Linked DNA regions of Homo sapiens. The protein of the gene in region 1 interacts with the protein of each later gene in a pairwise test. Each region holds a gene or a part of one and is shown on either strand. Other genes may lie near its edges.

What was found. Proteins that work in one complex are often made in the same cells at the same time.
Region 2: the proteins of CSRP3 (region 1) and LIMS1 interact in a two-hybrid assay, tested with the Homo sapiens proteins (one large-scale study listed by BioGRID and IntAct).

The regions. Positions count from the first base shown.
Region 1 is NC_000011.10:19,191,836-19,195,485, reverse strand, and holds part of CSRP3 (cysteine and glycine-rich protein 3), read left to right. Parts: intron 1-3,009; 5' UTR 3,010-3,037; coding exon 3,038-3,149; intron 3,150-3,650. UniProt on the Homo sapiens protein: Positive regulator of myogenesis. Acts as a cofactor for myogenic bHLH transcription factors such as MYOD1, and probably MYOG and MYF6.
Region 2 is NC_000002.12:108,673,882-108,677,531, reverse strand, and holds part of LIMS1 (LIM and senescent cell antigen-like-containing domain protein 1), read right to left. Parts: intron 1,655-3,650; coding exon 1,504-1,654; intron 927-1,503; coding exon 834-926; intron 738-833; exon of another isoform or gene 602-737; intron 219-601; exon of another isoform or gene 41-218; intron 1-40. UniProt on the Homo sapiens protein: Within the IPP (ILK-PINCH-PARVIN) complex, binds to F-actin, promoting F-actin bundling, a process required to generate force for actin cytoskeleton reorganization and subsequent dynamic cell adhesion events such as cell spreading and migration.

The DNA.
Region 1 (3,650 bases):
TGCTGAAACTCAGGATCAAAATGAACATGAGCAAAATTATGTGAGTCTATTCTTTTCTAGAAAATGTAACATCTTTAATGAGAGAAGAATGGATTGTATAAAAAGAAGTTGGCTAAGAAAAATATCCCTAAATGCTTACTTTTAAATACACCTTGGTTATAAATGAGAGGGTCCAGCAATCTTAAAAATCTATTCCAGCCCTGAAAGTCTGTAGTTTAAATGGAGTCCAAAATAAACAAATTTGGGCTATTTTAGAGGCTATTTAGGCCTCTACGCCTTTCTGCTTGCTCTTTTCTCTGCATGACTTCATTAGCATTATTCCTTCCCACTTTTCTGTATCTGGTGAACTCCTATTCACCCTTCAAACCCCCATTTGAATGTGATCTCTTCTGTGACCCTCCAACAGTTCACTGCCTTTATCCCCAGACTAAATGTGGGGAGCCAGTCCGTCATTTGAGTTTCTGTAGCATGTCTCACAAGACTCTTCTCTGGTACAGAGCATTCTGAATCTTGTCTATTTTTCTCACTACAACATGGGCTTCTCAATGCCAGGGGTCACAAACTACTCATTTTTATAAGTTTTCCCCCTTTTGTCACTGAGTACTTAGTGCAGTACTTGACACATGATAGGCAGGTAGTAAATGCAGGGTGAATGAATGAATGAACGAATGAATGTGAGTTTTAATTCTAAGTCTTTCAACTCAAAATCCATTACTCTTTCTAGTTTCCTAAACAACCCGAACTACAGAAATAGAAAAACCACATGCTTCCATTTTTTAAGAAATTCTTATTTATTTATTTTAGAGGCAGGGCCTCACTCTGTCACTTAGGCTGAAGTAGAGTGGTGTGATCATAGCTCATTGAAGCCTAGAACTCCTGAGTTCAAGTGATTCTCCTGCCTCAACCTGCTGAGTAGCTAGGACTGACTACAGGAGCATGCCACCACACCAGGGTAATTTTTTGGGGGGTGGGGTAGAGACAGGGGCCTCACTATGTTGCCCAGGCTGGTCTCAAACTCCTGGGCTAGTGATCCTCCTGCCTTGGCCTCCCAAAGTCCTGGGATTGTAAGTGTGAGCCACCATGCCCAGCCCAATGTTTCCTTTTTTAAAGTTCTTTTCTAAAATTTTACTGAATTAGCAGAAGATCCTACTTCTGTGAGAGGAAGGATAGGATGTTCCTGGCTAACCTCACAGTTTTTCTAAGCAGGAAAAGCTCTTTGGGGGAATATTTAGATAGAAACATTCCTTCTAGACCTAGTATCAGGTTCAGTGGTCTGTTTGCTATTTACTTTCTGTTTCTTAGCAAAAAACTGCCTTTGTTATGAGACTGTGAGATACAATCCGGACCAGTTGACCCAGGAGGGCTTAGTGTTAATCGCCAACTATTATAAGAAGGTGACTGGCTTCCCAGAAGGGAAAGTGAAGGTCACAAGCAGCCACTCAGAATGGCTGGATAGTGCTCCATGTCATGACACACTAGGCTTCTTAGAAACCAGAGGATCCCAGTGAAAATGCAGCTCCCCTGGGCAGCTGAATTTCAGAAGTTTCATTTAACATCAATGGCTTATTTTAGTTCTGCTTTGAGGAAACTGAAAACTTGGATTCATACTAAAAACATATGCAGATGAGGACAATTATTATTACTATTTTATTTATTTATTTATTTTTTGAGACGGAGTCTCGCTCTGTTGCCCAGGCTGGAGTGCAGTGGTACAATCTTGGTTCCCTGCAACCTCCGCCTCCTGGGTTCAAGTGATTCTCTTTCCTCAGCCTCTCAAGCAGCTGGGATTACAGGTGCCCACCACCACACCTGGCTAATTTTTGTTTAGGCCGGGCACGGTGGCTCAAGCCTGTAATTCCAGCACTTTGGAAGGCCAAGGCGGGCAGATCACTTGAGGTCAGGAGTTTGAGACCAGCCTGGCCAACATGGTGAAACCCCGTCTCTACTAAAAATACAGAGGACAATTATTTTTTTAAATAATTTTCTTTGGTTAATATCTCTTAAATGTAATCCTGTGGTGAGGAGACAATGACAGTCCTGGGGCTGTGGCTATTAGCAGCTCCTTGTAGCTGAATGTCTCCAATGGTGCAGGAGGACATGTCAGCACCATGGTCTGGCTCCTGTTGAGCACTGTGAACTCTGTGGGACCTTCCTGCACATCATGTCGTTTGATTTTCTAAAGGACACTAAAGCAGCAGGGAAAAGAATAACTGTATAGGTGGGAAAACAGGTATAAAGTTAAGCTATGTAGTTCATCCTGATATGAACAGCAGGTAGAGGGTAGCCCTGAAAGCAGAAAGCAAGTTTCCAACTACTGACCTAGTGTAGTGCCAATATATCTTATAGCCTAGGTGATTATATTCTTAAAAAGGAATGTATGGATATGAGGAATAACTTGGAATAGGAGATTTTATATATTATTAATATGCTTTTCTATCAGCAAGATAAGCTAAGATTTTGCTACCCAAAATGTAGTCCACTGCCAGCAGCATCAATATTGCCTGGAGTCTGTTAGAAATGCAGAATTTCCTGCCTCTCCCCAGATCTACCAAACCAGAATCTGCATTTAGCAAGGTCTAAGGTGATTTGAGAAGCTCTTAGCTAGACAAGAAGAAAATACCATCTTCACAGATGATTCCCAGTTCTGATGGGATAATTTTTTAAACTTGAGATGAAAAAAAAAACGATCTTTGTATATACTTTTATGTACATGAAATTAGCCTATTCATTCCTTCCGGGAGCCCTGTGAGATACATAGGAATAGATGTTACTGAAATTTAACAGGAGAAGAAACTGAGTTCCCAAGTGGTAAAGTGATTACCCAAAGCCATCTAAGTGTCTGAGCTTATTTAATGACTAGCACACAGTAGCTGTTTGCTAAATGAATGAATAAATGAAACACTAAAAAAAAATTGGGCTGGATCCTGGTCTTCAGACCACTGCACTCTTAGAGATTGGTTCACTCCTGGGGCCACTTCAATGTAGGGTATTTGCTTTATGTCCCCTTAGACTTGACCTTGACCAGATAGTCTTCAAGATGCCAAACTGGGGCGGAGGCGCAAAATGTGGAGCCTGTGAAAAGACCGTCTACCATGCAGAAGAAATCCAGTGCAATGGAAGGAGTTTCCACAAGACGTGTTTCCACTGCAGTGAGTTGGGTGGACACCCTGGGGGCCCCTCAGCATCCGGACAGCATCACAAAATTCACATTGAATCACAAACACTGTATGCCAGTGGTTCTCATAGTGTGGTCCTGGGACAAGCAGCATCAGCATTACCTGGGAACTGGTTAGAAATTTAACTCTTGGGCTCCACCAAGAAAAGATGGTGCTCTCCTGAATACCCTTGCTTCAACTGCTTGCCCAGCTCAGAGGCCATTCATTTTCCTGTAGCTCAACGTCAGAACAAGCTAGCCTGTCACTGCTCTCTGTAGGGAAAACTTTGACCCCATGGCGACATTGACAACATGTGACTTGGCAGAGAAAGGAAGCCAGCACTTATCTGAAGCCAGGATGGATTTGGCTGTCTATGTTGCCCCTTCTGGTCAGCTGTGACTGAAGCCAGCTGTGACTGGTCTTGTCTGAGAGAGAACCTATGTCAGGCAGGGGGGCAACACATGCCAACTCTGTATGTAAGAGTCAGAGAGGGAA
Region 2 (3,650 bases), on another chromosome or scaffold:
GTCATAAAATGATTGCCCACAGATTGCTTCTTTCTTACAGAGGAGGGAAGGAAATTGTAATTCACAGTGATGTTATCAGCCAGCACCATGCCTGGGAGATCACCAGGGCAGGAGAGGTATAAAATGCTCCAGGGGCAAGGTTCTGAGAAGATGCCCTGCCACTGTATGAGGCCACAACCTGCTGTGTATAACCTCATCTAAGCACAGAGAAGCACCAGGTGAACCCAAGTGGAAAGTAGTCTATTAAAAAGGGGTTAGGGGCCCTCTGCATCCCTCCAAAATGTCAATGTCATCAAAAATTTTAAAAGACTCTGGAAACGTTCCAGATTTAAGAAGGCTAAAGAAACATCACAGCCAGAGGCTGGGTCCAGTCTGGGAGTGGAAAAAATGCTGTGAGGATATTGACTCAAGTGACAAAACTGGAATAAATGGTTAGAGTACGGTATCAATATTGATAACTACAATTATGTTAGAGAGTCCCATATTCTTGGGAAATATACACTGAAGTATTTAGGGATAAAGGAGTATGATGAACTTATTGGCAAAACAGCCATCGTACTTGTATATAATATTTACGTAACTATGTGTTTTACACAGGAAGACTGAGCTTGGGAAATGATAAAGCAAACTGTGGACTTGAATGAAAGACATACAGGTATTCTTTGTATATTTTATAGTTAGCTTCTGAGTCTGAAATTATTTCCCAAATAAAAAGTTAAAAACAAATCTCTACTGAACAATGTACATCTTCCAAGAGATTTCCTTGTAGCTAAACTACTGATAAGCTTAGGTTCATAAAAGTCTATCTAGCATCCAGTGACTAAGGTCAATACCTGGTTATAGTGAGTTTCACAATATGCCAGGCCTTTCCTCTCATAATGGCGATGTCCAAGAAAGGGTTTCTCACACTTGGCACAAACAAAATGCTGAAAAAAAATTGCTATAGGTCATTTTTGAATTGCCATATTTTATATCTAATAAAGTAAATACCAGAGTTAACCTATTTTCAGAGAAGATGAAGGAAAGTTTGAGACAGTCATTTCATTTGGCCATAGGTGGCCCCATAATATAATACTTCTGCAGTTGTAATTCAGGTGTCTGTCTTTGAAGGTTACTTTAAGACATAGCCTATTATAATAGCCCAAAAAGAGAATAGAGGTGAGCATCTCAGTAGCACCTATAAAGGAGGAGCTGCTGCTGGATACAGACCATGGCACTTCCTGCTTCAAGAAGGCTTTAGGAGCAAAAGTACACATCCTGTATCATTACTGAGACATTCACAAAAGCAGTGTACATTATATATTCTTAGCTGTCAGCAAAGTCAATTGTCTTTAAAATGTCCACGTTTAATCTTTAGAGTCTCCTAATCTTGCCAGGACACCTGAATCATGAAGATTTGAAAGTACTGGTTACCCCTGAATCATGGGAGATCTGAAAGTATTGGTTACCCCTTAATCATGGAGATTTGAAAGGATTGGTTACCCTTTGCCATTTAGAACTCACCTCCACATGCCACTGCTTGCCCATAGCGTTCACCACGCGCCCTTCGATGGGCCGTCGGCAAGCACCACAGATGGGGACCCCCATTTTATCATGGCATGGGAGGCAGTATAGCTCCCCTTTCAGCTCCCGTGCATCGGCAGTCAGCTCCTTCCTGTCCGTGAGAAAGACACACAGCTTAATACTAAGAGAGAAAAGTGGCCAACCAATGGGGCTAGCACACTTTTTAGAAGGTTTTTAAAGACATTACTATGACAATCCCTGCAAATTTCTTTTTTCCCCTTTAGAGGTGATCAGAATAACCTGAATTAATAGGCCTGAACAGGTTTCAGACTCCTACCAAAACATCTGTATCTTAAAAGGATAAGATGCAAGACTAGGTCAGATACATACCACCACACCAGTCATATTCATAATTTCCTTCTTATATTATCACATTACATTTTAGTCCATTTGTCTTCCTCTAAAAGCTACAGGGAATAATCACAGTGCTGAGGGTAGACTCAGTAATACTATCTGCTATGGTGTGACTGTGTCCCCAAAGTTCATGATCCCCAATTCTGAGGTGTTGAGAGGTAGGACCTCTAAGGGGTGATTACATCATGAAGGCTCTGCCCTCACAGATGGATTAACGCTGTTACTGAGGGGGTGGGTTCCTTATAAAAGGACGAGTTCAGCCTCCTTCCTTCTCTTCCTTCCCCCCTCCTCTTCCCCCACCATGTGATGCCCTCTGCTATGTAATGATGCAGAAGAAGGTCCTCACCAGATGCCAGCCCCTTGATCTTGGACTTCCCAGCCTCCAGAACCATGAGCCAAATAAACTTCTGTTGGTTACAAATTACCCAGTTTGTGGTATTCTGTTACAGGCGCATAAAATAGACTAACACACGACCTTTCCAAGCAAACTGAGAAGTTGGGAGACTAGTTCCATTTACTAACAATTATTTAAATTGTCACAAGCTGTTGAAAATAGTTATAGGTTAATAGGTTTATTTTCATAAACAACAAAATGCCCAGAATTTTCCTTCTCCAAATACTCAAATTAAATATTATTTTCAGTCTCCTGCATCAATAAACATTTGGTCAGAGATGGTCCCAATTAGTCAAACGGACTTGTTTGAATTTCATCCCTTTTATGTAATTCTCTAGGAGAGATGCTAATGAAAAGTGGACAGAGGTGAATCCCCAAGAGGAAGGACAGGCAAGAAAACGAGATAAGGCACAAACTGATAATTCAATCACAAAAGATGAGATGGCTGAACTTATACAACCAAACTGTTTTCTTTCTTTCTCTTTTTTTTTTTTTTTTTTTGAGACGAGTCTTGCTTTGCTGCCCAGGCTGGAGTGCAGTGGCGCGATCCACACTCACTGCAAGCTCCACCTCCCAGGTTCATGCCATTCTCCTGCCTCAGCCTCCCGAGTAGCTGGGACTACAGGCACCCACCACCACGCCTGGCTAATTTTTTTATTCTTAGTAGAGATGGGGTTTCACCATGTTAGCCAGGATGGTCTCGATCTCCTGACCTCGTGATCCACCCGCCTCGGCCTCCCAAAGTGCTGGGATTACAGGCGTGTGCCACTGCACCTGGCCCAAACTGTTTTCTTAGTATTTGGCTTACTGTTTCTTCTCCATCCCTACTATAATTTAGCAAGTAAGTTCACATTAACTACAGTAAAGAATATTTTTTTATTTTTATTTTTTGAGATGGAGTCACGCTCTGTCTCCCAGGTTCGAGTGCAGTGGTGCGATCTCAGCTCACTGCAACCTCCGCCTTCCGGGTTCCTGCCATTCTCCTGCCTCAGCCTTCCAAGTAGCTGGGACTATAGGCACCCGCCACCGTGCCCGGCTAATTTTTTTTGTATTTTTTAGTAGAGACGGGGTTTCACCGTGTTAGCCAGGATGGTCTTGATCTCCTGACCTCGTGATCTGCCCGCCTCGGCCTCCCAAAGTGCTGGGATTACAGGTGTGAGCCACCACGCCCGGCCAAGAATCTTTATCCACTAAATTTTTATACTAGGCAGCAAACTGAGAAAAATTCATAGCCCAACAATTTATCATAACTTATTGAAGACAAAAAATTAAATATATTTCTTTTAGATATAAACCAAGCCAAATTAAATAAATGTAACAACATCTTTTAAGATAATAC